4 linked regions of the Homo sapiens genome follow. The protein of the gene in region 3 interacts with the protein of the main gene of each other region in a pairwise test. Each region holds a gene or a part of one and is shown on either strand. Other genes may lie near its edges. The genes, in order: NDUFB7, SERTAD2, CTNNA3 and KATNAL1.

Region 1 (5,289 bases), on a different chromosome or scaffold from region 3:
ATCACAGGCATACCGAGCACCAGCTCTGGGCCACGTCCCACATTAGGCACCGCGGATACAGCAGGGAACTGGAGGGATGCAGGCACTGTCTCCAGAGAACTCAGCACAGTGGGAAAGATTGTGGAATCAGGCAGAGCTGGGGGTGTCAAAGCAGGCTTCCAAGAGGCAGTGGCTGGAAACAAAGACGTGAAGGGTGGCCGGTCGTGGTGGCTCATGCCTGTAATCCCAGCACTTTGGGAGGCTAAGGCGGGCAGATCACCTGGGGTCAGGAGTTTGAGACCAGCCTGGCCAACATGGTGAAACACCATCTCTACTAAAAATATAAAAATTGAGGCCGGGCATGGTGTCTCACACCCATAATCCCAGCACTTTGGGAGGCCGAGGCGGGCAGATCACGAGGTCAGGGGATTGAGACCATCCTGGCCAATGTGGTGAAACCCTGTCTCTACTAAAAATACAAAAATTAGCCAGGGGCGTGGTGGTGCACACCTGTAGTCCCAGCTACTCAGGAGGCTGAGGCAGGAGAATCGCTTGAACCCAGGAGGCAGAGGTTATAGTGAGCCGAGATCACACCACTGCACTCCAGCCTGGGCGACAGAGCAAGACTCCATCTCAAAAACAAAATACAAAAATTAAGCCGGGCACGGTGGCTTATGCCTGTAATCCCAGCACTTTGGGAGGCCAAGGCCGGTGGATCACCTGAGGTCAGGAGTTTGAGACCAGCCTGGCCAACATGGTGAAACCCCGTCTCTACTCTACTAAAAATACAAAAATTAGCCAGGTGTGGTGGCGCATGCCTGTAATCCCAGCTGTCTGGGAGGCTGAGGCAGGAGAATTGGCTGGAACCCAGGAGGCAGAGGTTGCAGTGAACCAAGGTCAGGCCACCACACTCCAGCCTGGGTGACAGAGCGAGACTGTCTGAAAAAACAAAACAAAACAAAACAAAGATGTGAAGGGGCATGAGTAGGGGTTGACCAAAGAGAGGTGGCAGAGCCAAGCTTCTAAGCAGAGGAGGGACACAATCAGTTTTGGTTGGTCAAAAGGTCACACTGTCTACTGAGTGGGCGACAAGCTTGAGACAGAGACCTCTAAGCAGCCTGGATTTGAGAGAAAGTTGGGAGATGGTATAATCACTCCAGTGTCCACACTCCGGGTAGTCCTTCCGCCCCAGCTGAACCTGCAGTTCATTGGTCCGTCCACCTTCCTCCCACTGCCTCACATACCTTGCTTTCCCCAAGATCAGCTTTGCAAACGCTAGCAACCTGCTGCCCTTCTCTCTTGCTTACTCTGGATAAACTCACCTCTTTCCCTTCCTTGGTGCCTATCCCCGTGCAACTGAACATAATGGGGGGCGGGGAGATAAGAAAAAAACAGCTCTAAGCCAGGCAAAATGGCTCATGCCTGTAATCCCAACGGTTTGGGAGGCAAAGGCAGGAGGATTGCTCAAGGCCAGAAGTTCAAGAACAGCCTGGGCAACATAGCAAGGCCCTGTCTCTACAATTTTTTATTTTTATTTTTTAATTAGCTGGGTGTGGTGGCGCATTCCTGCAGTCCCTGCTGACCGGTCTCCCGATTGGTACTCCAGTGGACTCTTTATGGTGCCTGGCCTTTCTCTTACCTCCCGGATCCTTCACTCTCTCCCTCCCTCCTAGATCACTGTCCCCTGCCCTCTCTTTCCTCCTTTCCACCCCCTTTCAGCCAGTCACTTTGCTCACTGCAACATCTGCCTTCCCGGTTCAAGCGATTCTCCCGCCTCAGCCTCCCGAGTAGCTGGGATTACAGGTGCGTGCCACCACACCTGACTCATTTTTGTATTTTTAGTAGAGACAGGGTTTTACCATGTTGGCCAGGCTGATCTCGAACTTCTGACCTCAAGTGATCCACCTGCCTCGGCCTCCCAAAGTGCTGGGTTTACAGGCGTGAGCCACCGCGCCTGGCCCATATTTATTTATTTGTTTGTAGAGATGGGCTCTCGCTCTGTTGCTTAGGCTGGAGTGCAGTGGGGTGGTTATCACCCACTGCAGCCTCAAACTCCTGGGTTCAAGCGATCCTCCCGAGTAGCTCTGGATACTCCGTGTGCACTACCGTGCAAAGATAATTTTATTTTTTTCTGGACATGGGATCTTTCTGTGCTCCCCAGGCTGGTCTCCCTAATACTTAAGCACTGCCAGACACGCTGTGGTGCTCTGTCTTCTGTCTGTTCTGTGTCTCCCTCTGAGGGCAGGGACACTTGTGTGTTGTGTTGCCTGCTGTATCCCCACCACTAAGCACACAGTAGGCAGTCTAAAGTCCTTGCTGCTAGCTGATTATAAGTTCAAGACAAAAGAGGGAGGAGTCTAGGATTGCCACCTGGAGCTCCAAGTGCAGATAGGGAACAGCCAGGGGCTGCAGGTGATACCCAGGCCTGGGGCTCAAGCGAGGTGTGGGGTGGAGGGACCACATCGGGCTCATCTACATACGGGGCGGCAGCAGAGAAAAAGGCTCTCAGGCCGGGCACAGTGGCTCACACCTGTAATCCCAGCACTTTGGGAGGCCAAGGTGGGTGGATCACCTGAGGTCAGGAGTTCAAGACCAGCCTGACTAACATGGCGAAACCCCATCTCTACTAAAAATACAAAAATTAGTCGGGCATGGTGGCAGGCGCCTGTAGTTCCAGCTACTCAGGAAGCTGAGGCAGGAGAATTGCTTGAACCTGGGAGACAGGGGTTGCAGTGAGCTGAGATCTTGCCACTGCCCTCCAGCCTGGGTGACAGAGTGAGACTCCATCTCAAAAGAAAAGAAAAAGGCTCCCAGAACAAAGCGTAAGGTAAGGCAGCCATAGAGATGGGAGGAAACCTGGGGAGGAGGGATGTGGGAGGAGCCACAGGAAAGAAGGAAGCGGGAGGCTGGGGTCCTGGGCTGTTGGGTGGCCCTGTGAGAGCCCGTGTCTGGGCAGTGAGGGGGTAGGGCAGAAGCCAGGGAATGGGACAAGGGGCAGGAGAGGAGGACCTGGGCCTCAGTGGGATGAGAGAATCGCAGCTGGGAAGCAAAGGGGAGAGAAGCCAGCAGGGGACGACTGCCATTGAGATGTGAATATATCTCGTCTCACTTGCGCAGATGGGAAGGAGCTGGGACCGAGAAAGATGTGGTGGACGTCAGGAGGGCTAGGGAGGCTGGGTCTGAGGGAGGCGGTGGGGAACGAGTGCAGGATCGCCAGGCACAGGCTCCGGGGTGAGTGTCCAGGATTCCTCATGCTCCCATCGGCCCCCTCCTGAAGGTTGATTTGTCCGGAGTCAGGTTTGCTAGGTGAGTGGGGCACCGGGACCCAGATACTAGTCCAGCTGTCTTCTGAGCCCACGCCTAAGTACCTTACAGGTACTGTTAGCTCAGTGGATGCTCGGGTAACTTCCATGACCGGATGGTCAGTTCTGAGGCTGAGAGAGAGGCCACGCCGCCGGCCAGTGCAGAGCTGGGCCTTGGGTGGGTTGCAGACAAGAAAGGCTGGGAGTGCTGCCTGGAGCCCCAGGTGCAGGTGGAGGGGCTGAGGGTTACTCTGGGAGAAGGTGGATTCTGAACTCGGACTCTGGAGAGCGGGGCTGTAGAGAGCTGGGGACGGGCATCCCTGTGGGAGGGGAGGCAAGGATCCGGCACGGGATGTTGAGGTGCCTCAGGGTGATGGGGAGCCACCTTCTCCTGTCTGGCCCTTGGTGTCTGGAGTTGCCTTTGTGCAAATTAGAAAAGGAGGCCCCTTCAGGACAGTGCATCCGTCAAAGGCATCTGCCATCCACTGCCATCTGGATGTGAATGGGGGACACCCCAAGCCGTGCCTTCCTGAAGCCGTGTGCCTCGGTCCCCTGGGGATCCCCGGAATTGGGGTGGGGAGCCTCCAGCCTGGTTGAGCCCCGCCCACTCCCTGCAGAGATGGTGGCCACACAGCAGGAGATGATGGACGCGCAGCTGAGGCTCCAGCTGCGGGACTACTGCGCCCACCACCTCATCCGGCTGCTCAAGTGCAAGCGTGACAGCTTCCCCAACTTCCTGGCCTGCAAGCAGGAGCGGCACGACTGGGACTACTGCGAGCACCGCGAGTGAGCACCCCCACACCAGCCCCCAACACCCCGGCCCGCAACACCCCATACCCCCAGCCTTCCACACCCCTGGCCCACCCAAGCCCCCCACATGCCCAGCCCGCCCAAGCCCCCCTCCCACCCCCGCCAACACCCACAGCCTGCACCCCACCCAGGCCTGGCCCCTGGCAGGATGTGGCTCCAGAGGCCAGGGACCTGAACTGCCACTGAGGTTTCTAGCCGGGCCCCACCTTAGTCCCAGAGAGGGCTCTCTAGGGGCCTGTTTGATGGGGACAGGGCAGGTGGCTGAAGCCACCTAGGGGAGTGGCCAAGCCCAGGTTCCAGTGGGAAGCCCTGCCACCTGCGTGGGCAGACCCCAGACCCAAGCCACAGGCACTCGGACATGTCTTCTTCAGAGGCCTCCCCCACAGTGCTCTGGGACGGCCCCTCCGCTTCCCAGGGCTTGGGGGGCGTGTCCTGGCCAGGGACCCTGACAGCCCCTCTCGTGCTTTTCCCCCAGCTATGTGATGCGCATGAAGGAGTTTGAGCGGGAGCGGAGGCTGCTCCAGCGGAAGAAGCGGCGGGAGAAGAAGGCGGCAGAGTTGGCCAAAGGCCAGGGACCCGGGGAAGTGGACCCCAAGGTGGCCCTGTAGGGGGTGCACCCCCCACCCTATGGACCAGTCAAATAAAAGCCTTCAGGCCCCTCAACCAGAGTCCCCTCTTACTGCTCCGACGCGAGAGTGGGGAGAGAGTGAAGGGCAGTGTGGTGGTCCCCAACCCCGGAAAGAAACACACAGAGCCCGAGTCCGACTGGGGCAGGCGGGCTTTATTCCGGGTGCTGGAGAGCTGTGGGCCCCACTCCTCCCCCAGAATGCCACCGGGTTGAGGGGCTGAGCCTCAGCAGGGGTGAGCGCTCAGAGCAGGAAGGGGATGATGGGCATGCGCAGGGGCGGGTAGTCCCGGAACTCCTTCAGGTAGCTGCGGTGCTTGCCCTTGGCCCAGATGGTCATCTGGGTGAAGCCCACCAGGGAGAACAGGGCCACTGCAGGAAAGAACGGGCGTCAGGGAGGGGCTGCCGGCCCGGAGGGGCAGGGCCCCGCCGAGGGAGGGCGGCAGGCTCACCTGGGAGACACTGCGTCATGATGGCGAAACCGATCCAGGACCCCACCTGTGGGCAGGGGCGGAGAGTGAGCGTGGGCAGCCTCGCAACCCGTGTATGTGGCTGTCCTGGACTCAGCCAGCC
Region 2 (7,593 bases), on a different chromosome or scaffold from region 3:
GGTTTGTAGATCCACCGCCCCAGTCTCTGCCTTCACTGTCACATGGCCTTCTCCATGTATGCATGTATGTGTTCAAATATCTTTTTATAAGGACATTAGCCACTGAATTAGGGCCCACACTAATAACCTCATTTTAACCTAATTACCTCTATAAAGACCCCACTTCCAAATTAAAGTCACATTCTGAGGTACTGAAACCTACCTTTTTGGGGGAAACAATTCAGCCCCTAACACCTCCCCAGCACTTCACACCCCACCTCACATTCCACTGCTGATTGAGCTGAACCTTCACTTCCCAGGTCTCACACATCCATCCCTTTTCCCTTGCCAGTGGTGTGGTGGCCCAACCACACCAAAATAAAAAACTGCCTAGGCCAGGTGAGGCCAGATCCCATGACTCCATCCAAGACAGCCCAGTGGCCAAGGAGGTTGCACAGGGTCTCCCCCACTCCCCACTGGAAGACAGCAGGGGCAGGGTCCAGATGGTATAATCAGTGGGTACACCTGGAGGACGTGCAACAACCACGTGACCCACTGGCATTTTAGAATGTCAACTCCAGCATCAGGGATGGTAGAGAGACGATCACAGCAGGAAGACTAGTCAGGAAACAGGTACGGCGGTCAGAGGCAAGGAGAGAGAAAGGGTCCGAGCTGGGGACGCTATGGTGAGGATGGAGAGGTGGTGGCAGAGGGAATGACATGGCTGGGACTGCGGAACAGGGTGCAAGGGTGGGCAACTGAGCCAAGCGTGGAGCAGAGTGCTGAAGACAACGAGCCCACAGAAGAATCAGCCCCCAGGGGAAACGAGAGCTCTTTAGACGCGCTGAGAGTGAGGGAGCAAATCTTGGTAGATACTGAAGTCTGGAGCTCAGGAGAGAGGCAGGGGCTGGAGACCAGTTTTGAGAGTCCTGAGTGGATTAGATCACCTTGGGAAAGCAAGAGGCAGCAGGAATGGAGGCTCAGTGAAGTGCAGTCATGGGCCAAACCCTGGAAAAGACAATGTTTTAAAGAGAGCTGGGGCACAGATGTGAGAAAAAGGAGGTCCAGAAGGGTCCAAGAAGCAGGAGGAGAACCAGGAGAGAAGGGTGGTTCCTGAGACCAGGACGGTTCAGGAAGACCAACAGCACGCACTCCTTCGGGGCCCCCCTGCTGCTCTCTCTTGCTGGACTTTGCTTAATGTGAGCAAACTGTCACAAATAAGCTGATTGAGCTCCCATCAAAAGAAAACTGCAAGCATGCCTCTCTCATCTTTTAACTGTTTATTGTATAATATAAAACTACAAAAGTAAGACTGCTCATTTCCATGTACATTTAATCTGTCCAATTGTTTAGATTACAGCCCAAACCTACATGTGAATACAGCCATCTGGGTTCCGATGTAACGTCTGTAATATTGCATAGAAAAGGCACAGCTCTCAGGTCTGTGGGGGAAAGGTTATACCTCCTTTTTGACAAAAGCCCTCCTCAAAAACCATGCACCAAACATGTCACTATGTACATCTTTTTTCAAAATCTCGGTCATGCGCACATATGGCCTGCATTTCTCTTCCAAAACTTGTTATCCCCAAAAGAAGTCCAACTTTTTATTGGCTTTGTCTGCAATAGCATTTGATCCTGGCTAATTTTCAAGAACCATTCAGACTCATTCTTAGAAACACTGAAAACAATTGTACATAAGCAGGATGCACACAACTCCATGCCTCCAGGTGCGGGGCAGTTACAGGAAGGTAACCATTTACAGCCAGAAAAGGTTAAATATACTCTTTTCATTGTTTTCAGAAAATGTATAAAGGTCCAATTTGTAACAGCAAGGTTTTCAAATTAAGACAATTCGTATAGAGTAGCAATTGCTGCACGAAGTAGAGTCTTTTTTTTTTTTTTTTTTACATTTGTCATTTAAGAAGGCTGCCCTGCGGTATTCATAATTCATTGTTTACCACAAAGGTGGTTCATAAATTTAAGCTTTAAAAACGATCTGTAAGTTGATACTTTGGCTCTTTGGAGCTTATTTCATTAAGAAATTTTCCTTGATTGACCTCAGGGCAGCTGGGGCACTCCAAGGGGCTATGGCGATAAAAAGCTCAATTGGTAAAGACACTCGAGAGGTGCAGAGGAGGCTCTGGCCACTGCTCACCCTTTGGTATGAACAAGGGTGCCCATGTGGTTGCTCCTTCTGTCATCCAGAGAAAGTGCTACTAAAAAAACTTTAAAAAATATCAACCCTTTGATGCTTTTCTTAAAAATTTGGAGGTATTAAAACATTCCTCATACCTTTTGCATATTTCAAATAGACCCATATTAGAGAAGAGTAAAAATGAATGCGGACTGTGCATACAATGAGAAGACCTGGGGGCCTGGCTTGGACCCCCTTTTAATACAGATTTACATTCCTACAAGAGAATACATTCCTACCATACATTCTGCACATGTTACGATCCAGATGTTAGCGCTCCACAGTAAAATAAATATATTTACACAGAAAAAAGGAATAAATAACTTATGGGGGGAAAAAAACTCACTTCAAATTCAAAGCTCTTACGATTCTGCTCTCATCTTGTCACTTCATTGCACATCAGTGTCAATAACTGTCCTCTCCCAGCCCCAGCTCGGTTTTCTCGTAAAGGCACCTCAAGCTGCCTGCCTGGCCCTGGATGCCATGTGATGTCTTTCATAAAGGGAAGGCACTGCTGGAAGCACATCCCACACTCAAACTGGGACTTGGAGATCCCACTCCAGCTCCTACTGTTCCCTGTTGGGACATCACTTTGTAAGAATAGGATGCAAAAGCAATTAGAACCCTAGATCATTTTGATCTTTCTGAAAATGGGCTGCTAATTTTCCATGTCTTTCTTGTTAGACTTTGAGTATCAGGGATTTATGGCAACGGTGTCAGAGTTAAAAAGCATTTGCCTGCTGTTTTTGGGGTTTTTGTTTTGATTTTGAAGCCCAGCCTTACAAATACATAAGAGTCAGAGAACCAAGTTTGGGCAACACTTCTCCGTGCTTATTTGAACTGTTGCCCAACATATGGGATTTGTTTAAACACATGATTTGCTAATCCAACAAAAGTACAGTTGTTGTAAGTTACTGTAAATCAGTTTTTAACAATGGCAAACCAACTGTTTTACCCTGTTATTGTTCAGAATCATCAATACTATTGTATATGTGTACGTAGGTAGATGTGTGCAGCATGCGGCAGGTTTGCCAGGTCCTCCAGTTATAGAAAGCATGGAATCTGGGCAGACTTGTTCTCTGCAAGAAAGGGAAGCTCTTAAAATTAACAGGCATACTGACACTGGAAGCATCTACTACAACCCTCACCTCAGTTACATGGTCCCTGGTCCTATTAAAGGAAATGACACACCTGTAGCAGTACGAGGTGTCTGCGTGGAGGTTGCTTGTAGGAGAACAAGTGCAATTTGATCAGTTTCTCACTGCTCTACTGAGCTGATAATTAGCCTTTAAAACACATTCAAGTGGGGGGAAAAAGTAAATTAGAATGTAGAAAGCCTTTATCATATCATACTCAAATCTTTTGCTTAGATGAGCAGTTCCTTCATCACAAACGTCTTTGCTTTGCCATGTGCATTACAAAAATAAAACTAACTATGGCTTGCTTAAAGTGCCATTTTATAAAGTTGTCTTTTTTAATTAGCCAGAAAGACCCAATTTTATCCATGGCAAGAAGTGAGCAGAATTGGTGACTGAATATTGACAAATGACCAACAACAAAGACAACAACAACAACAAAACATCCCATAATTTAAAAATTTTTAAATAAATATAAAAGTTATTCCTAAAGAAGCCATCTGCATAACAATATAGGTTGTAACCTGCACTCAACAGCTAAAGTACCATTGGAAGAAAAGAAAAAACTGAAACAAGAAGGCCATAAACAGTTTCGGCAACAAGCATGATACATTGCAACCTTTTTAAAATTAAATGTACACCACTAGGAATAAAAAGCTACTTCTCAAGTGTGTCCTGGGAGATAAGGTGATGGGGGGGGGAATTGGGGGGAGGAGGGAAAACATGCATAGAAAGTCCTGTCTGAGTTTTGGGGTAAAACAGCCTTGACAAGTGTGAAGTAGCTGACTCAGGAAAGCAACCAGATGGGAAGCTGTGACGTAATGTGATGAACTCCAGGTTCAAGAGTCACACATGTTGTAAGAGTGCATCCCGGGCCGGCCGAGGCGAGCCAAGCTCACTGTGGTGATCACGAAGATGCCATTTTCAGCTCTTAGCAACACAGGGAAAGCTCTAGGGAAAGGAAGCTGCAGAAGACAATTAAGCAACATGATGGATGCCTTCTGGGGAGATTTTCTTCTTTAAGGGCCCTAAGCATTGCAACAGGGCTGAGTTCCATGAAGAAGTTGGTTGCTTTTCGGATGTAAAATTTTGTTCGGATGTAAAATTTCAGGTCATCATAAAAATTATGCCAAAAAGGAAAGATCTGGGTTTTCATTAAAAAACAAAATAAAAACAATTAAAAGCGCAAACTTGGCATAAATACACTCTTAAGAAAGACAGTAGCTTTACCCTCAAAAGAGGGAGCAAAAGAGAACCATCACTTAAACCCCCAGCTCCACAGCCATCTCCCGCCAACTGCTTAATGCAAGTTTGATGAGCACATGTGGCTCTGGCTTTGGAAGTCACAGTACTGGCGGGTGTTGGTGCCAGGGGGTCAGTGCTTGTGAAATTTGGGTGTGATATCACCTGGCCCTTTCTTAAAGCACTGTGTGTGTGTTTATGGGTGTGTGCATGTGTGTGCCTGTGTTTGCATTTGGGGACATCAACTGCAGATTGATTTGATCCAATTTTCTCTTGCACCATACACATATAAAACATTACAACTCTATAAAAGTACAAGTGCAACTTGTACATCTGAAGTTTGCAGGAACTATGTGAGCAAATCCTATCAAAATAGCTATCTCATATGTATAAACAGCATTTGTTTTTAGAAAAACAATATCATAAACTGCAGAATCTGTACAAAAATATAAAATAAATTTGGGCAGCAGTTTTCTAAACAGCCATGTAAATGCAACACTTACGAGGAGTAGTTAATGCCTCTAAAAAGGCCGAATTGCCAAGTCAACCTATACAGGGCAAAAATGCCAGAAAAGGTACTGAGATTATCTAAATAAGATATATATATATAGTTTTCTTCTTTACCTCTTGCAATAAAACTTATAGAAAAAATAGACAAATATGCACATGCAATTTACAGCTTTTCCAACTTAATCCTTGTGCTTCACTTGAACTGTTTATTTTTGTCATTCAACATTGCAACATTGTCTTCAAATGGATTCTTTCCTATACCAGGGTAGTAGGTCTCTGAGGAACCACTCAAAAAAGTGTATTAAAAGTGGTCATACTTGGATGAAGGCACTCCAACTCTGCTCAAAGCAAAAACTAGTGTGATCCTGTTGTAAAATTTTCTTTTTCTCTGAAAAAGGCAAGCAAGGGTGCATGCACAGTGTGGAGAACTGTCAGGGTTATGGGAACGCTCTGGGGTCTGGGTGGGCATAGTCGCTGGGTCCCTGGGTCTTAGGACCCAACAAGCACCTCCATGATGTGGTCCAGCTCTGTGAGGTCCATTTTGAAAGGCTGACTTGGGGTGACAGGCTGACTGCTGTAAGGAGCCAGAGTTTTGAGGAGGTCGTCGGCAGACACAGGGGCCATTTTTGAGGCTGTCCCTGATGAGGAAGTGCAGGGGTCAAAATCATACATGGACGTATCAATGTCAGCAAACAGGATGTCATCCAGGGTCAAGTCTGTCAGGAAACCCGTGGACGTCGTTATTTCAAAATTCCCAGGCAGAGAGTCCATCAGTTTTGAGTCATCTGCGCGGCTCTCTTGAGGACCGTCGAGTTTCTGGGTGCCAGCCTCGCTGGAGGTCCCTTTCACACTGTCAGTCGCAGCCGTGGCCGCCTCTGTGGAGGTAGATGTGGGACAGAGCTCCTCGATCTCGTCCAAGGCAGAGGAGAAACTGTCCTTTTCTGGCAAGAGGGCTGGAGGTGACAGTTTGGTGGGAGCCGTGGGCTGCATGGCCTGGGAGGTGCAAAACGTGTCATCGTCGTCCTCGAGCAGTGAGGCCGGGGTGAGGCAGGCCTCCAGGGGCGTAGTGCTTCCGAGGTCGCAGGGGTGGGAGGACGGGGACGCCAGGTGGCTGAAGGCCGGCGGGGCCTCTCGGTAGCTGTCGCTGGGCTCGGTGGTGGGCTGGGAGGAGGGGGTGAACATGGGCCTCAGGCTGCCTTCCTGTTTGAGTTCCTCCTGGATCCGCCTCAACATGTTGTTAATTAAAACGGTCTTTTGCAAGCTGGGCTCTGTCAGGGGCCTGTGGTTATAGAGTTTCATAAGGGAAATGTTGAAGATAGTCTGGCGCTGTAAGGTGTAAGACACCTTGGATGGACCGTCACAGGGAGACACGATTTTGCCTTCCAGCCCATCTTCATGCTCATCAAACTTCCGTTTTCCTCCTTTACCCAACATATATCTGCAGAGGGGAGAGAGAGGAAATGGCATTAATCACATGAAAGCTGATTTCTCCCATAAAAAAAGAGACTGATTTAGAGGGCAGGACTTGGACCTCAGTTTCCTGCCCAGGGTTATTTACAAGTACACGTGGATTAATTAGGGGTGGGAGGAAGGAAGACCTTTTACAATAAGAGAGAGTTAGAAAATCCACCTTTGTATGCCTGTGGAGCAATTTTTATCACTAGGTAGTCTGGTGAGTGTATTTCTTGAGAAATGTGTACGACACAGACAAGTTAAGAATTACCATGGAAACCATGATTTTGACTTTCTCAGCTCATGTGCTTGTGTTCGCATGCCTAAGATTATCATGCAGGTTCGATTTCCCTCCCCCACGTAGATTTATTTTTAAAGCCCAAGAAAACACTTACAATGCTATGACCTAAACAGATACAGGTGTCATAGATTACAGCTTGAGCACTTCTTAAAGGATTAAAAGAACCAAGTTAAAGAAAGGTAACATGTATAATTTGGGTAGAACTGTGTGTGCTTTCAAAATGCTTTTCCTTCCTCATTAAGCACGGAGTCTTTCTGCCTGGTTGGGGACATGTGGTGAAGCACTGCACCTGTGTTAAATGACCACAGTGACTGAGCCGCCGCCACTTTTCATTTAGAATCAAGGGGAGGAATGCGTATGTCCCAGCCTAAGTTCTTCCTTGGCTCAACTTCATCCACACACAGTTATGTTTGAAGACAACTGGATTAATTTTGAAGTAATTAGCTCTGATTATAAGCATTGCTGTTTGGGTACTCGAGACATTTCCTAACAAACTACCTCCTGTGATTCCAGAGATACATGCATATTTTGAGGAAACCATGACCTCATATCTCAGACCCTGAGAATCTGGTAATGGGTTGAATTTTAAAACTGCAGCCAGGAACTCCTGCCCCATCTTGCCTGCTGCTCACAGGCCAGGCTGTGTCCTCTCTTGCTCTGGCCTTAGTGAATACATTTTATCAACTGGTTGTCACCTTCTGGGGAGTGGGCCTTCCAACTTTCCAAGATCATGTGACATCGTCACAACCTCCTTTCAGAACTTCTACTGTCTAAACAGA
Region 3 (7,186 bases):
TCCCTTTCCCAGTTCTAAGGCTTGGGTAAGTGCCACTAGTTCTGCTAACTGGGTGCTGGTCCCTGGGGGAAGAGGCTTAGTTTCAAGTACTGTTACTATGGCATAACCTGCCCTTCGTATCCCATTCTCCACAAATGAACTTTCATCGGTATATAGGTTAAGGTCAGGATTAGCTAAGGGGACTTCTAAGAGATCATCTTGGGTGGCATAAGTCTGGACTATAACCTGTTGGTAGCCATGCTTGACCAGCTCCTCATCCTCTGGTAGAAAAGTGGCAGGGCTGAGGGCCACACATGTATGCACTTGAAGCACTGGTCCCTCAAGGAGTAGCGCCTGGTATCTAAGCAGGCGGTTGTCTGATAACCATAAACTTCCTTTGGCACCTAGTATGCCATTTACATTGTGAGTAGTCCAGACAGTGAGATCCTTTCCTTGTATTATTTTGATAGCCTCTGACACTAAGACAGCCACCGCCACAACTACCTGTAAACAGTGAGGCCAGACTTTTGCTACTATATCAATTTCCTTACTTAGGTATGTCACTGATTGTGGGGTTGTCCCATGAGTCTGAGTAAGGACCCCAAGAGCTATTCCTGCTCTCTTTGTGATGTATAAAGAAAAGTTTTGTCCTGTGGGAAGGCTTAAGGATGGACCTTGAGTTTGTTCCTTCCAATGCCCAGACTTCAGGGTTGATTCCCTCCTCAAGCAGGGGACAACAAATGGGTAACTTGTTCCCCATATTCATAGATAATAGCTCCAGCTTTGGCTAATATGTCCCTCCCTAATAAGGGTGTGGGACTTTCAGACACAACAAGAAAGGCATGTGAAAAGAGCAAAGTCTCCCAGTTACAACTGAGGAGGTGGGAGAAATACCTGGTTACAGGCCATCCCAGGATTCCTCAGATGGTAACGGACCTTGAGGACAGCTGTCCAGGACAGGAGATTAACACTGAGAAGGCCATGCCAGTGTCCAGGAGGAAATCAATTTCCTGGCCCTCAATGGTTAAACATACCCGGGGCTCAGTGAGGGTGATGACATGAGCTGGCACTTGCCCCGGGCATCCTCAGTCCTGTTGTTGGATCATCTGGTTGGGGGCTTCTGGCCCAGAGAACCATTGTACTCTGGGGCAGTGAGCCTTCCAGTGATTGCCTCCGCATAGTGGACATGGGTGAGGGAGCAGCTTATTTCTAGTAGGACAATCTTTTTTAAAGTGTCCTTGCAAACCATACTGAATACAAGCCCTACCAGGTGATTGACCTGCTCTATTTTCTGTCCTCTCTGAACCACCAAGGTTTGTTTGTCTGAGGGCCATGACTAAGGCTGTGGCCTTTCTCTGATCTTGCTTTTCTTTTTGGGCCTGTTTCTCTTGGTCCCTATTATAGAACACCGAGGTTGCCAGGTTTAATAATGCCTCCAGATTTTGTTCAGGGCGCAAGGCTCGCTTTTGGAGCTTTCTCCTGATATCTGTGGCTGATTAGGTAATAAACTTATCTTTTAGAATCAATTGACCCTCGAGTGGGTCGGGTGACAGGAGAGTATATTTTCTTAAGGCCTCCCATAGCTGTTCGAGGAAGGCAGAAGGATTTTCTTCCTTTCCCTGAGTTACGGTGGACATCATTGAATAATTCACAGGCTTTTTCCTAATTCTCCTTAGTCCTTCTAAAACACAGGTCAACAGATGTTTGCAACTCCAGTCCCCATGATCTGAGTCGAGGTCCCAGTGGGGATCCATACTGGGGATGGCTTGCTGACCAGTAGGGAATTTGCCCCTTTCTTCGACTGTCATTCTATCATTTACTTGACTAAGATACCAGGTATCTCCAAACTCTCGGGCTGCAACTAAAGCCACATTCTTTTCATTAAAGGCCAGAGTTTGACCTAATAGCATGATATCTCTCCAAGTGAGGTCAAAGGTTTGCCCTAGACCCTGTAAGACATCTATATACCTAACAGGATCATCTGAAAACTTCCCCAGATCTGCCTTGATCTGCTTTAAATCAGAGAGGGAGAAGGGGACATGTACCCGGGTTGGGCCAAATTCCCCTCCCCCTACAGCTTGAAGGGGACATAAATGATAGCTCAGGGGTTTTTGTGGTCCTTTGGAGATTTCTTTGTTTGTTTCCTTCTGGGTGGGGGAGATTAGAGGAGGCTTATCATTAATAGGAAGGGGAGCTATAGGGAGGCTAGGATATGGAGGTAAGCTGAGAGGTCCTCCTGTGGGATGTAAATTGCAAGTTTTGCATAGTTGTGTATTCTCCTTCAATGAAAAGAAAGCTTGGACATAAGGTATTTCACTCCATTTGCCTTCCTTCTTACAGAAAAAGTCAAGCTGCAGGATAGGATTGTACTTTATACTTCCTTCAGGTGGCCATCTTTCCCATCAGAGAGAGAATATTGGGGCCAGGCCATAGTGCAGAAAAAAGTTAGCTGCCTCTTTTTCAGGGTTTGCAGGTCAAATTGGTCCCAATGGCTTAGGATGCATTTCAAGGGTGAGCCTGTTGATGCCTGAGTGTTTCCCATCTGAAAGACAAAACCACCCTTGGTCTTGGTTTGTTTCTACCCCTCCCCAAGAACCCACAATAGTCCCTGGACCCTGCTGATTGGAATAGTTGCACTTACTGATGCAGCAACAGAAACACCTCTTGCCCAAGAACCCGCAACGGTCCCTGGACCCTGCTGATCAGAATAGTTGTGCTCACCGACGCAGCATCAGAAACACTAGTTTTCCTCTTAGACCAAAAAGAGGACCGAGGAAGGTCAGATTTAGTGGCCCTTACTGATGCATTCTCAAAAACCTGCATTCTTGCCTGTCCTCTTAGACCACAAAGAGGACCAAGAAAAATTGGATTTAGTGGCCCTTACCGATGCATTCTCAAAAAGCTGTTAGAGTCCTAAGCATTATCCTGTTAGTATTGGGACCTTACCACTGTCCTATAAAGATGTTATGCCCCAAAAATGAACTGGACGGACATACCCTGAGAGAGGGAAAGGATCTCCAGAGTTGGAAGAGTGATGCTTTTTGTCCTCACTTATATGAATAGGAAAGATACCATTTCCGAAGCTCCCCATATCCTAGCTTCAGGAATAGCTTTTGTTAGGCCTGCTTGTCTGAAGAGGGATCCTAAAATTCCAGATAGTCCCTTGCCCAGATGGGACTTTGGGCAAAAATTATGTCTTTCTGATTGGTGAGCCCGGGTGCCTAAAGAAGGTAAAAGAGTCCTGAAGTTTATACTAGAAATCATTCTTATAGGAGAAACTAGAAAAGCACCAGAGACAGGGAGTGCTTTTTAGAAGTGGACTAGCCTCAGAGAAGAGAGGCGAGAGGAAGTTTGTCTGACAGGCATTAGGACCCAGGAGGCAAGGGTCAGGAGATAGGATAGATGGGCAAGTCTCGCTTGGGTGACATGATTTTGAGAGTTCCACTCATGGCCGCAGGGTCAACCAACTTGTTGTTGGGACCCCGGAGCTGAATGGCTTTCCTCTCTGTCAACCCTCGGCTCAGCCTGGAAGTACCATTAAAGTGGAAGCTGGCTCCAGGCAAACCAACATTCCCAACTCCATAGAGTCAGGGATTGTTAGAGAGCCCTATCCCAGAAAGCCTGGCACCTGTGTCTTTAGTCCAGCGGCCGCGCTAGTTGCTTTTAGCTGACCGACAGGTGCCCAGTATTTACCCCCAGAATTCTAAGGAAAAACAGGACAGAATAGCAAGCAAAAGGGGTCTGATGGTACTCATCACTTGGCAATAGGCGAGAGTCCCATCTGGGTTGCCAAAATGTGTCCAGAATTGGTTGCTTCTGGTGGGTTCTTGGTCTCGCTGACTTCAAGAATGAAGCCGCAGACCCCACGGTGACTGTTACCACTCTTAAAGATGGTGTGTCTGGAGTTTATTCCTTCAGATGTTCATATGTGTCCGGAGTTACTCCCTTCCGGTGGGTTCGTGGTCTTGCTGACTTCAGGAGTGAAGCCACAGACCTTCACAGTGAGTGTTACGGCTCTTAAAGGCAGCACGTCTGGAGTTGTTTGTTCCTCCCAGTGGGTTCATGATCTGGCTGACTTCAGGAATGAAGCCACAGACCCTCACGGTGAGTGTTACAGCTCATAAAGGTAGTGCGGACCCAAAGAGTGAGCAGCAGCAAGATTTATTATGAAGAGTGAAAGAACAAAGCTTCCACAGTGTGGAAGGGGACCCGAGCAGGTTGCCACTGCTGGCTCAGGTAGCCAGCTTTTATTCTCTTATTTGGCCCCCACCATGTCCTGCTGATTGGTCCATTTTACAGAGTGCTGATTGGTCCATTTTACAGAGTGACTGGTTCTGTTTTTACAGAGTCCTGATTGGTGCATTTACAAACCTTTAGCTAGACACAGAGCGCTGATTGGTGCATTTTTGCAGAGTGCTGATTGGTGCGTTTACAAACCTTTAGCTAGACTAGACACAGAGCACTGATTGGTGCATTTACAATCCCTTAGCTATTCAGAAAAGTTCTCCAAGTCCCCACCTGACCCTGAAGCCTAGCCAGCTTCACCTCTCAAGAGGAGATAAATGTTTATACAGTGTAACTTAAGCAACGCTACTCAAACTGCAGGTCTGCGATGAGAAAAGGAGCTTGTACCAGAATGTAAGTTAATGAGTGCTTCCTTCATCTAGAAAGTCTTGCTACAGCCTCTCCCTCTCCCTCTCCGTCTCTGTCTCCCTCTCCCCACGGTCTCCCTCTCCCTCTCTTTCCACGGTCTCCCTCTGATGCCGAGCCGAAGCTGGACGGTACTGCTGCCATCTCGGCTCACTGCAACCTCCCTGCCTGATTCTCCTGCCTCAGCCTGCCGAGTGCCTGCGATTGCAGGCGCGCGCCGCCACGCCTGACTGGTTTTCGTATTTTTTTGGTGGAGACGGGGTTTCACTGTGTCGGCCGGGCTGGTCTCCAGCTCCCAACCACGAGTGATCCACCAGCCTCGGCCTCCCAAGGTGCTGGGATTGCAGATGGAGTCTCGTTCACTCAGTGCTCAATGGTGCCCAGGCTGGAGTGCAGTGGCATGATCTCGGCTCACTACAACCTCCACCTCCCAGCAGCCTGCCTTGGCCTCCCAAAGTGCCGAGATTGCAGCCTCTGCCTGGCCACCACCCCGTCTGGGAAGTGAGGAGCATCTCCGCCTGGCCGCCCATCATCTGGGATGTGAGGAGCCCCTCTGCCTGGCTGCCCAGTCTGGAAAGTGAGGAGCGTCTCTGCCTGGCCGCCATCCCATCTAGGAAGTGAGGAGCGCCTCTTCCCGGCCACCATCACATCTGGGAAGTGAGGAGCGTCTCTGCCCGGCCGCCCATCGTCTGAGATGTGGGGAGCACCTCTGCCCTGCCGCCCCGTCCGGGATGTGAGGAGCGTCTCTGCCCGGTCGCCCCGTCTGAGAAGTGAGGAGACCCTCTGCCTGGCAACCGCCCCGTCTGAGAAGTGAGGAGCCCCTCCGCCCGGCAGCCGCCCCATCTGAGAAGTGAGGAGCCCCTCCACCCAGCAGCCACCCCGTCTGGGAAGTGAGGAGTGTCTCCGCCCGGCAGCCACCTCGTCCGGGAGGGAGGTGGGGGGGTCAGCCCCCCGCCTGGCCAGCCGCCCCGTCCAGGAGGTGAGGGGCGCCTCTGCCCGGCCGCCCCTACTGGGAAGTGAGGAGCCCCTCTGCCTGGCCAGCTGCCCCGTCCGGGAGGGAGGTGGGGGGGTCAGCCCCCCGCCCGGCCAGCCACCCCGTCCGGGAGGGAGGGAGGTAGGGGGGTCAGCCCCCCACCCGGCCAGCCGCCCCATCCGGGAAGTGAGGGGCGCCTCTGCCCGGCCGCCCCTACTGGGAAGTGAGGAGCCCCTCTGCCCGGCCAGCCGCCCCGTCCGGGAGGGAGGTGGGGGGGTCAGCCCCCCGCCCGGCCAGCTGCCCCCTCCGGGAGGGAGGTGGGGGGTCAGCCCCCTGCCCGGCCAGCCGCCCCCTCTGGGAGGTGAGGGGTGCCTCTGCCCGGCCGCCCCTACTGGGAAGTGAGGAGCCCCTCTGCCCGGCCACCACCCCGTCTGGGAGGTGTACCCAACAGCTCATTGAGAACGGGCCATGATGACAATGGCGGTTTTGTGGAATAGAAAGGGGGGAAAGGTGGGGGAAAGATTGAGAAATCGGATGGTTGCCGTGTCTGTGTAGAAAGAGGTAGACATGGGAGACTTTTCATTTTGTTCTGTACTAAGAAAAATTCTTCTGCCTTGGGATCCTGTTGATCTGTGACCTTACCCCCAACCCTGTGCTCTCTGAAACATGTGCTGTATCCACTCAGGGTTGAATGGATTAAGGGCGGTGCAAGATGTGCTTTGTTAAACAGATGCTTGAAGGCAGCATGCTCCTTAAGAGTCATCACCACTCCCTAATCTCAAGTACCCAGGGACACAAACACTGCGGAAGGCCGCAGGGTCCTCTGCCTAGGAAAACCAGAGACCTTTGTTCACTTGTTTATCTGCTGACCTTCCCTCCACTATTGTCCTGTGACCCTGCCAAATCCCCCTCTGCGAGAAACACCCAAGAATGATCAATAAAAAAAAAAAAAAAAAAAAAAGTCTTGCTACAAAGTGCTTAGGGTGTAGCTGATTTACTTTCAGGCACAAGCCTCTTATCTCGTTTCATAGATTAGTTAAAAATTGGGAACTTCTAATTACATTTTGAACAGTGCTAATTTAAAGTAGGGGCCTCCATTGTTCAAGTTCCAGTATTTGAGAGACTTTCTTTGCACTAAACATTGCCTTCTCCTTCAAATCAATTTCCCCATTGCCAGGAGGCATCTGAAGCAGAAAATCATCCTGGTTAGGATAATGAAAGGCAAAGAAAAGAGGTGGGGAGGGTGCCAAATAAACTTGACCTAATCTTCCATTTTGCACACAGGAACTCAAAGTCACCTATCATATGCTAGAAGCTAGTGATTAAATTGGTTACAGATTACTCGCTGAATCCCAGGCAAAAATAATGTGGTTAAAAACAGTATTTAAGCATGTGAAAAATCAGATGTATCGGCTAACAGTCCTGTTCACCTTCAAAAATTCTGCAGCCTCAATTATCTGTCACTTTCCATTAGATTTGCAACTTTGCTAAACTCCGGAGTTCCACCCCGCTGTACCATCTCACTTAAAATCCAGTATCCAAACAAGAATCAGAAAATCACACTTTTTAAATCTCTAGACTAGC
Region 4 (8,935 bases), on a different chromosome or scaffold from region 3:
ATGAAATACTCTTGAGCACATTAAAATATAAACATATTTTCATTTACAGATGCTCAAATATCAGTGAAATCACAAATCAGTCCAGACATTAAATACTGTCAGAATTGAAGAATTTTAGAGCCATTGAGCTCTCATATTATCTAGTGGAACTTCCTGTTTCTTTGAAGATGAAAACAAGGCAAAAGTACATTGGTATTAATGCCCTATACAATAACATTTTATAGCATTAACGGAAGCTTCATTTTAAAAAATTGATTAGTCCTCAGACTCTAATCATCACTTTGTAATATAACTACTACCTGATCCACCTGCTTAATATGGTCAAGTAAAGTCTAGAACAGGGCCTTTCTATCAGACAGAACTGGCAGTCCTGCCACACTGTTAGTAAGGAAGTGGGAGAAGAAATGCTTTCAGTTGTTGAGCACTTTAGGGTTTACCTCCACTAAACTGTTTCAACTTCCCAAAATCAAATAAATAGTATTAACACCTCATATGAAATAAGGGTACAGATTTGGAGACCTGCCTATGATCATGCAGAAAATAAGTTGGAGACACAAAATTAGACAACTTACTTTCTTTCCTTATTTTCCCCTCCTTTGTTATGCTCTCTCCCAGTTCTTCTTCCTCTATGCCTCCTAACTAGGGTCTCATTTGTAGGCTCCTCCCGCAAACACATACACACAACTCTTTTTTTTTTTTTTTTTCCTGACACGGAGTCTCGCTCTGTCACCAGGCTGGAGTGCAGCAGCATGATCTTGGCTCACTGCAACCTCTGCCTCCTGGGTTCAAGCTATTCTCCTGCCTCAGCCTCCTGAGTAGCTGGGACTATAGGTGTGCGCCACCATGTCTAGCTAATTTTTATATTTTTAGGAGAAACGAGGTTTCACCATCTTGGCCAGGATGGTCTCGATCTCTTGATCTCCTGATCTGCCCGCCTCAGCCTTCCAAAGTGCTGGGATTACAGGCGCGAGCCACTGCGCCCGGCCTACACACATTTCTTAAATGAGAGTTCCATATCCAAACCTCTTCCTTTTTCTTTTCTACTCATTACTCCAATGTGAGCTGGTCCATTCTCCCTTGTAGCTTTAATTACTTATCTATATGCAAACTTCTAACTCCAGCCTGCTCTCTCTGAACTCCAGACTAAAATGCACCTCCACCTGAATATCCCATAGGAACCTCTAACAAATGCTCAAAACTCAACTAATATCTTTATATTTCACCCCAATAAAAACCAGCTCCTCCTCATCTCAATCAACGGATTCACTATTACCTCAGTCATGCTAGCCAGAAACTGAGGAATCAATCAGCTAAGAGTTCCAAATCTAACTCCCAACATCCAAACTCTTATCAAGTCATATCAATTTTATCTCTTAAATATTCCTTGAATCCATGTCTTTCTGTAACTCCAAATGCTTAATTCAGACTCTCTTCACTTCTCTACTGGACTTTGTTTTTTTCTATTATACAACTGGCTTTTCTACTACCTGTAATGTTTCCCCTCCCAGGTCCATTCTCTACACTGGGGCTGGAGTTATCTTTCTAAAATACAAATCTGACGCCACCACCACTCTAGCTAAAATTCTTCAATGACTGCCCTATATCAAGAAAAATTCTAAACTCTGAATATGGTGCCAAGTACTTTAAGATCTGGCCTCACCCACTAATTGCAAGTATTCTGGGATCCAGTCATTCAGAACTACCTAGCGTTTCCCAAATACAAAATACTGATTCTTCAATCTATCCTTTGCTTATTTTGTGCCATCCATTTGTCCTAGAATGACTTTCCTCATCATCACTCCAGTGAAAGCTTATTCAACTATTTTAACACAAGTTAAAAGTCAAATCACACTGAAGGCCTCCCCTGACTTCCTTAGACAGAGTCAGGATCTTTCTACTAAATGACAGAGAATGGTCAGTGCTTGAGATCAGGACCAGACCCACCTGGGCTGAAATCCCAGGTTCACACGTTACCAGCTATGATTTTGAGCAAGGCCTCTAAAGCCTGTTTCCTCATCTCTAAAAATCAGTAACTACTTCACCAACTGTTTTGAGGATTAAGTAAGGAGTTGCATGCAAAATACTCCTCACAGCACCTGACATATTCAATAAATGTTACTGTTATGTGATTATTTCCTCTGGGCTCCTAGAGCAACTTGCACTTATCTCTACCACACTACTGTGATGACAAGACTGCCCATGCAGGATACAGACTATCTTTTTTCATCTCTTTATTCTCACCACCTGGCATAATGCCTGGCACATAGGTTCCTAACACATTTTGAATGAATAAATAAAATACTTCAAACCTTATGTTGTATCACATAAGGCCTCAATTTTGTTTTCTACCTGTCTTACTAAACCTACTTTCCATCTCCTCCTTGTACAAAATTGCAACCTCAAGTAAAATTTACACAGGTCAACTTCATTTTAATTAAGAGAAAGTTTTATAGGATTTGTGGTCTTTTTGTTTTTAAACACACACACACACAAACTCACAATAATATCAACAATTCTCCAACTTACTCCATAAAGCAGCAAATTTCTAGGATGGTTATCTACCTATTAAAAAATTTTAAAGGGTCGTCAAGGAAGGTTTCGTAAATCTGTGTCAGCTTCCTTTACCAGCAAGTCTTTGAGTCAACTCTAAGGACTCAAGTGTACTCCTGAACATAAAAAATATATAAAGAATTAACTAAATAATTAAAACATGGTATTTTTCCTTCCGAAAACATGCTGAGAAATTCTGAATAACACTGGAATAATCAAAGAATTATTGCTGCCTACTGCTAAAAAAGTCTGTTTTTAAAAGTTACTAGTAATTTAAAGCTGAACTAATCAAAATATGTGTAGGCAGTGTTCAGGCTGGCAAGGGGGGGGTGGGGTGGAGCACTCATTTCACAACCTTGAACCTCAAGAAATAAAATTCAAAAATGCAAAAAGTTAAAAATGCCAGATACCACCATATAATCGCAATGACATCTTTTTATCTATTTCCACACTTAACCTTTAAACATTACTGCCCTTTGAGTAATTACCAATTGATGGGTTTAATATGCAAACACCTCTGAGCTACTTTAAAACAAACATGACTAACCCAGAAATAAACGTATCCAGGAAAGGAGAAAAACCTGTTAAAACACGGTTTCTCAGGTCTCACATCCAATGTGTGACATACATACGGTTCTGCACCGAAAGGCAGCAACCTGCGAGGGTCAGAGGCGCCGAAGACCCGAGGCCCTGCAGCTTGGGCGGCTGCTCATCCCTGAGACTGTGCAGGGCGGTGGCCCAGCCGGGGTGGGGCTGAGCGCTGCAACTGGGGCGGGCCCAGCTACAGGGCGGGAAGCCCGAGGCTCACCTCCACTTCCCTTTCCCAACGCACAGAGCCCAGGTCCGCGACCACTCAACAGCCCCCTCAAGACAAAGAGAGATTTTTTTTTCTGTCCCGGTCCGCTCAAAGTTTATCGGTCTTTCCCGGCGGTCGGGGCCGCCGGGCTTTGTAGTTCGCCAGTCCGAGCTACCCCACCAAGACCGCGAGCCCGAGGAGTCGCTGAACTACAATTCCCATGATGCACCGCGAGCCTGGCGCTCCCGCGCCCCTCCCCGTCCCCGCACGGGAGCCAGCGCCCGAGGAACCCCGCAGCCCACTGCCCTGGCGTCTCCGGCAGTGGGAGGCCGAGAGGGGCTGTTGGCTAGAGCCCTCCACCACCTGCTGTCTCGCCCTCGCCCCTTTCTCTCGGATTCATTACCCAGAAGGCGCAGGTCCGGGCACATTCAGCGATGCGGTCCAGATGGGGTGCGGGTGGGGCGCAGGCCGCCGCCGCCGCCGCCGCCGAGTCCGTTAGCTCGCGACGTGCGTGAAAAGGCGGCGGCGGCGTAGTGTTGCCATGGCAGCCGCGGCCGCGCGGTGGGCGCAGCGCGGGAGGGAGCGCGGGGGCTGTGAGTCCGCTCTGGGGCGGAGCTTGGGACTCCCGCCCAGGTTGCCGGGGGGAGGGAGGTGCAGCGGCGCGGGGTGGGAGAGCAGGGAGACAGTGACATTGAGGAGGACGTGTGGCCGACTGAGCTCTGGTCGTGCTTGATGAGCCTGCCTCCACTGCGTCCAGCCCCCGTGGCAGGGCACCTTCGTGCCTGCTGCTTTCGGAGGTGATGCCAGTGGCGTCGAAGGAGGGGGCACCCGGGGCGTCGCAGCGCCTTTCCCGCCGCCTGTCCAGGCGTCCGCCGCTGGGTCTGCCCCCAAGGGATGTGTGGATCCTACGCCACCTCTGTGTTTTTCTCCAGTCAAACCGAATTGAAGTCTTTCGCACCCCCTTTCTCCATTCTCTGGGGAGGGGGATAGAAGGGAATCCTTCGATAAGATGGAATGCATATGGCCTTTAGGATTATTCAGGAGGTTTTAGAATTTGCAAATGGCATTGCTTTCGACTGAATTTGGATTTATGCTGTTTCTTGGCAATCGTTTGTGGACTCTAGGATAAACAGGTTAAGAGCGTGGGCTTCTAAAACGAATTCTTAGTTCACGTCCTGCCCCTGTGCTTGGTAGCTGATGACCAGAGGCGCCTTTCTCACCTCTTAACGTTTTGATCTGCAAAAATGGAGATATCCATCTTGCAACTCTTGTAAGAAATACACGCATTAATACTGATGAAGCTCTATAAAACAAAGCTTAGCATTTAACAATAGCTATTAAATATTAATTATTTAATCAATAGTGATAAAAGTCAGAATAGTGGTTGGCTGTCGGGGAGGAGTTTGAGAGAATTTTTTGTAGTGATGAAAAAATTCTATAGCTAAGAGTTTCGGTTACAGAAGTATATGCACTTGTCAAAACTCTTGGAATGGGACATTTAAGATTTGTACATTTCACTGCATGTAAATTTACCTCAAAAGAGAACATAAAAATGTGTTGTTATTATTATTAGAGCTATAGACTCTAATGGAAACTACAGAGATATTCTAGGCCCAATCTCTAGATTTTATAGATGGGAAAACTGAGGCCCAGAAATTTAATAGAAAAAAAGAGGAAGGGGAGTGAATTCGTGACCTTGTCATTTTCTAGTAATGAATATCTCCTGAAAAATTATGGTTGAAAATAACAAAAATGGCTCCTGTAATCCAGCTGAGTCATCCTACCACAGAGATTTTCTTGAACTTGACTGAGTCCCTTATCCACCTTGTGGTGTTCCCCACGGCCAATGTCCTCTCAAGGATTGCACCGTCACTTCTGGCTCTCAGTTCTTGCTTTTCCTGAACACTTAGACCTCTCCACATATCACCTCTTACAACTCTCCTCTCTCTACTCCTGCTGACACATAATTTCGAAATCAGCCCCTTTTCTTTGGTTGTTTCTATAGCCAACTCTTTAGAAGGTTTGGAGCAGATAAGTGGTTTTAAATTAAGGATGCAAAAAACCTAAAATTAGAAATCCCTGCTCTTAAAAGTCCTTCAGTTCCTCCCATGATATTTTTATCCACCTACCACCTACCCCCATTTTTTCATCATAACCTGTAACCTCCCACTATTGTACCATCTTTCTGGTCCCATCTCTCCCCTCCTCTCCTCTCTTTATACAATACTTTTATTTCCATCTCCTAATCTGTGCCTTCATAGCTACCTGCCATTCCTAAACTGTTTACCAAAGTTTTTTCCTACACAAAGTAACTTCCCAAGAGGAACTCTGGAGCCAGCTATTAAAATAATATTTTTTCACATATGTATCCTCATATTCTATTTGATTCAGTCCACAGTGTAGCTGCTCAATAAATATTAAGCAGCTTACGTACATGACCTGTTGATATAGTTTGGCTGTGTCCCCACCCACCTCTCACTTTATTGTAATAATTCCCACCTGTCAAGGGCAGGGCCAGGTGGGGATAATTGAATCATGGGCGCGGTTTCACCCGTACTGTTCTTATGGTAGTGAATAAGTCTCATGAGATCTGATGGCTTTATAAATGGGAGTTCCCCTACACAAGCTCTTTTGCCTGCCACTGTGTAAGAAGCCCCTTTGCTCTTCCTTCATCTTCCGCCATGATTGTGAGGCCTCCCCAGCCATGTGGAACTGAGTCCATTAAAACTCTTTCCTTTATAAATTACCCTGTCTTGGTTATGTCTTTATTAGCAGCATGAAAACGGACTAATACACCTGTCCTGGCTACCTTCACAGTGGGTTCACTTATGAAACCCATTTTCTTACATCCATAATAATGGTTTACTCTAGTATAAATGAGGAAGCTATGTGATAATAGCTGGAATCTGCTGTCTAAGAGGAAGAAAAGAAACCAAAGTAACCATAGCTTGTACAGAAGAAATGACAGCACTTAAGAGATGAAGTCCGGAACAAAGTCTGGTATGAAGCCATAGGACATCCTTATAGGAACTTGGACCTGTCACCTGCAGCAATTTGGTCACAACTCTGCATATGTAATGAGCATGTAAATAAATTCTCCTTTACTCCTGGAGAAGATGTTACTGATCTGCTACCAGCTGAACACATGTTTGTAGTAGGGATGATAGGTTCACCGGATCCATCTCTCCCTGATCTGGTTTCCCTTGTGACCGATCACTTGTCTTTCTTTGCAAGGCAGCTGGCCAAGGTTGTAGTGCAGCCTACAGCCATGACGAAGTCTCCAAAGACAAGGTCCCAATGCATAACGCTCCTTGTTTTGTGAAGCCAGGATCCCAGAAAATCAGCTCAGCAGGACAGGCCACTTGAGAATGGATGACAGCAGCACAAACAAAAGCTGTCACAAAAGTGAGTTGGAGGTGGGCAGTCGCGGGAGGGAAGACCACAAGCCACTGAAGCACAGCCTTAAAATGCCTCGCATGGCTATGGACAGGTAGGAACGAATAAGGACCGATAGTAAACCATAGTTTATTGTTTTCACCAGATACTTTGGACCTGTTCAAGTGATAGTTAAACACCCTATACAAATCCAAAAGATGGAGCTGAAAGTAGTAGCACATTAATCCACACAGGCAGTGTGGTCAAGAGCCACCACCCTCATTTACAGCGCATCTGGTTTACAGTTGAGGTCTTTCCTCAGTTCTTAGAGTTCTTGGCCTCTCTGGCATTTGACTTTGCTGACTACCCTCCTTGGTGGGTCCTTGACCTTGGATCTCTTCAGAGCTTTCCAACCAGACTTCATTATGTTATTCACCAGCTCTTTTACCTGCTTCTTAAATGTGAGGATAGTTGCCAAGGTTCAGTCACTACACCTTTTCCATTTGCAAGCTTCCGCCTTGGCCGTGGGTGATGCTCCAATTTCTCTTGCTAGTTCTGATCCACAAGTTCCAGCACTGCACAAGCAGGCCCACTCTTCCTTAACTTGTTCTGTTACTTCTGTTCTCTTCGTCTAAGATACCAGCGCCTTACCCTATCTAAGGTCTACGTATTCTGAAAACAAACCTTCACATGAAACCTTTCCAGATCATTCCTGCTCAGTCATATCACCCTGCTCTGTGCTCAGAATATTTCCTGCCAATCTCACTCCCTTGACAGCTGACCATACTGCTGAGTGGCTGCTCAGTATTGTTTACTCATTGGCTTTTTGTCTTTTCTCACTATATTTCAAGCTCCTCCAACGTGTATTTCTGGGTATTCTCAAAAACACCTTCATAATACTCTACATATAATAAGGGCACAATAAATGTTTTTGATTGGTAGTTCTTTTATCTTTTCCCCTTAGCAAAACTTCCTTTATCTGGTAGCTCTCCCTCTTCTAGTACTATGCAGGACATTTGCAGCCTCTTGATATAAATTTCCCTGAAGCCTATAACTGTGGGCCCCCATACATATTCAGTGGAGGAGTACCTTGGGAGGTAATTCCTTAAGTCGCTGTTGCTGTGGAAGGAATTCAGTATGTAAGTAGCACTGAATTCCAACGTTCAGGCCCTCTTACCGTAAAGATCTAGAGCAGAGTTTTCCTCACTGTGGGTCACAGTCTATTAGTAGGTCATGAAGTCAATGTGATGGGTCTCTTCCGGCTTTGTCATATTTAAAAAGTGATAAGGTAAGGTAGTGTAGGGTAAAGTAGAATGCAATAGAATGCGGTAGAAAATGAAATCCAGAGGGTATGTGCATGGTTAGGGTCAAGTATCGTATGGCAGTTACTGAGCTGTCATCTTTCAGCTTCAAACCTACCCTCTGTCCTCTGCTTTGTGTTGGTGGGGCTAGAATTGTGCAAACCACATTTCTCCTCTGTCATCTGGGTGGAGAGGCTGGGGCAGCACAGCAGGACCAGAGGAAGAGCACAAGGCTGGAGGAGAGGGAAGCAACTTGCTCCTTCCTGACAGCCTGCTATGCTTGGCAGCATCACTCCTGCCACAGACTTTTAGCCTGGTGGCAGTTTTACTTGTCTCCAGCTTCTTATTGTATCTCAACCAGCCTCATCGCATCTCTTCTCCCTCCTCCCCAAAGCATTACCTGCAGCAGCAGCCAGACAGTGTCCCTCTTCAGGAGCCTGTGCCCCAGCTTCAACAGGCCTTTCCTACAAACCCCAACCTCCTCTCCTCCCTTTGATCTCCAGCCCTTCAGGCGGGAGCTGCTTCTTGCAGTTATAACCTATGTATTACTCCAGTGTTCCTTTTTTAATTTTTCAGTCCTTGAACATCTGTCTAATCAATTCCCTGTGCTAAATTCTTGCTCTTAAAATACCTACTTAAAGTTTCTTTTTTCCTGACTGAACCCTGACTAATATGGATTGTTAAGTAAGATGTACTTCCTGCCATAAGTGTCCATCAAAAGGGTTTAAGAAACACTGCTTTAGAGGATTGGGAGTTCTTAAATAGCCAGATGACCTGAGATGCAGCTAAGGGGCCAGTCCTAACATGTAGAGGTACTCTGGATTTCAGGTCCATGAAAAGCAAAGATCCTGTTCCACTATAGCAGTTGTCACTGTTGGACCCCAGTCACAGCCTGACCTGTAGGGATCACTAG

The links.
Region 1: the proteins of CTNNA3 (region 3) and NDUFB7 interact in binary tests that used the Homo sapiens proteins (3 or more experiments, as listed by UniProt).
Region 2: the proteins of CTNNA3 (region 3) and SERTAD2 interact in binary tests that used the Homo sapiens proteins (3 or more experiments, as listed by UniProt).
Region 4: the proteins of CTNNA3 (region 3) and KATNAL1 interact in binary tests that used the Homo sapiens proteins (3 or more experiments, as listed by UniProt).

The regions. Positions count from the first base shown.
Region 1 is NC_000019.10:14,565,543-14,570,831, reverse strand, and holds the end of NDUFB7 (NADH dehydrogenase [ubiquinone] 1 beta subcomplex subunit 7), read left to right. Parts: intron 1-2,730; exon of another isoform or gene 2,731-2,806; intron 2,807-3,898; coding exon 3,899-4,067; intron 4,068-4,566; coding exon 4,567-4,699; 3' UTR 4,700-4,754; downstream 4,755-5,289. Other genes in the region: TECR (very-long-chain enoyl-CoA reductase), read right to left, coding at 4,961-5,088, 5,169-5,214. UniProt on the Homo sapiens protein: Accessory subunit of the mitochondrial membrane respiratory chain NADH dehydrogenase (Complex I), that is believed not to be involved in catalysis. Complex I functions in the transfer of electrons from NADH to the respiratory chain.
Region 2 is NC_000002.12:64,630,377-64,637,969, forward strand, and holds the end of SERTAD2 (SERTA domain-containing protein 2), read right to left. Parts: exon of another isoform or gene 6,548-7,593; intron 6,500-6,547; 5' UTR 6,496-6,499; coding exon 5,551-6,495; 3' UTR 1,245-5,550; downstream 1-1,244. UniProt on the Homo sapiens protein: Acts at E2F-responsive promoters as coregulator to integrate signals provided by PHD- and/or bromodomain-containing transcription factors.
Region 3 is NC_000010.11:67,686,196-67,693,381, forward strand, and holds part of CTNNA3 (catenin alpha-3), read right to left. Parts: intron 1-7,186. UniProt on the Homo sapiens protein: May be involved in formation of stretch-resistant cell-cell adhesion complexes.
Region 4 is NC_000013.11:30,303,582-30,312,516, forward strand, and holds the start of KATNAL1 (katanin p60 ATPase-containing subunit A-like 1), read right to left. Parts: upstream 3,971-8,935; 5' UTR 3,750-3,970; intron 3,431-3,749; exon of another isoform or gene 3,359-3,430; intron 3,276-3,358; exon of another isoform or gene 3,098-3,275; intron 1-3,097. UniProt on the Homo sapiens protein: Regulates microtubule dynamics in Sertoli cells, a process that is essential for spermiogenesis and male fertility. Severs microtubules in an ATP-dependent manner, promoting rapid reorganization of cellular microtubule arrays.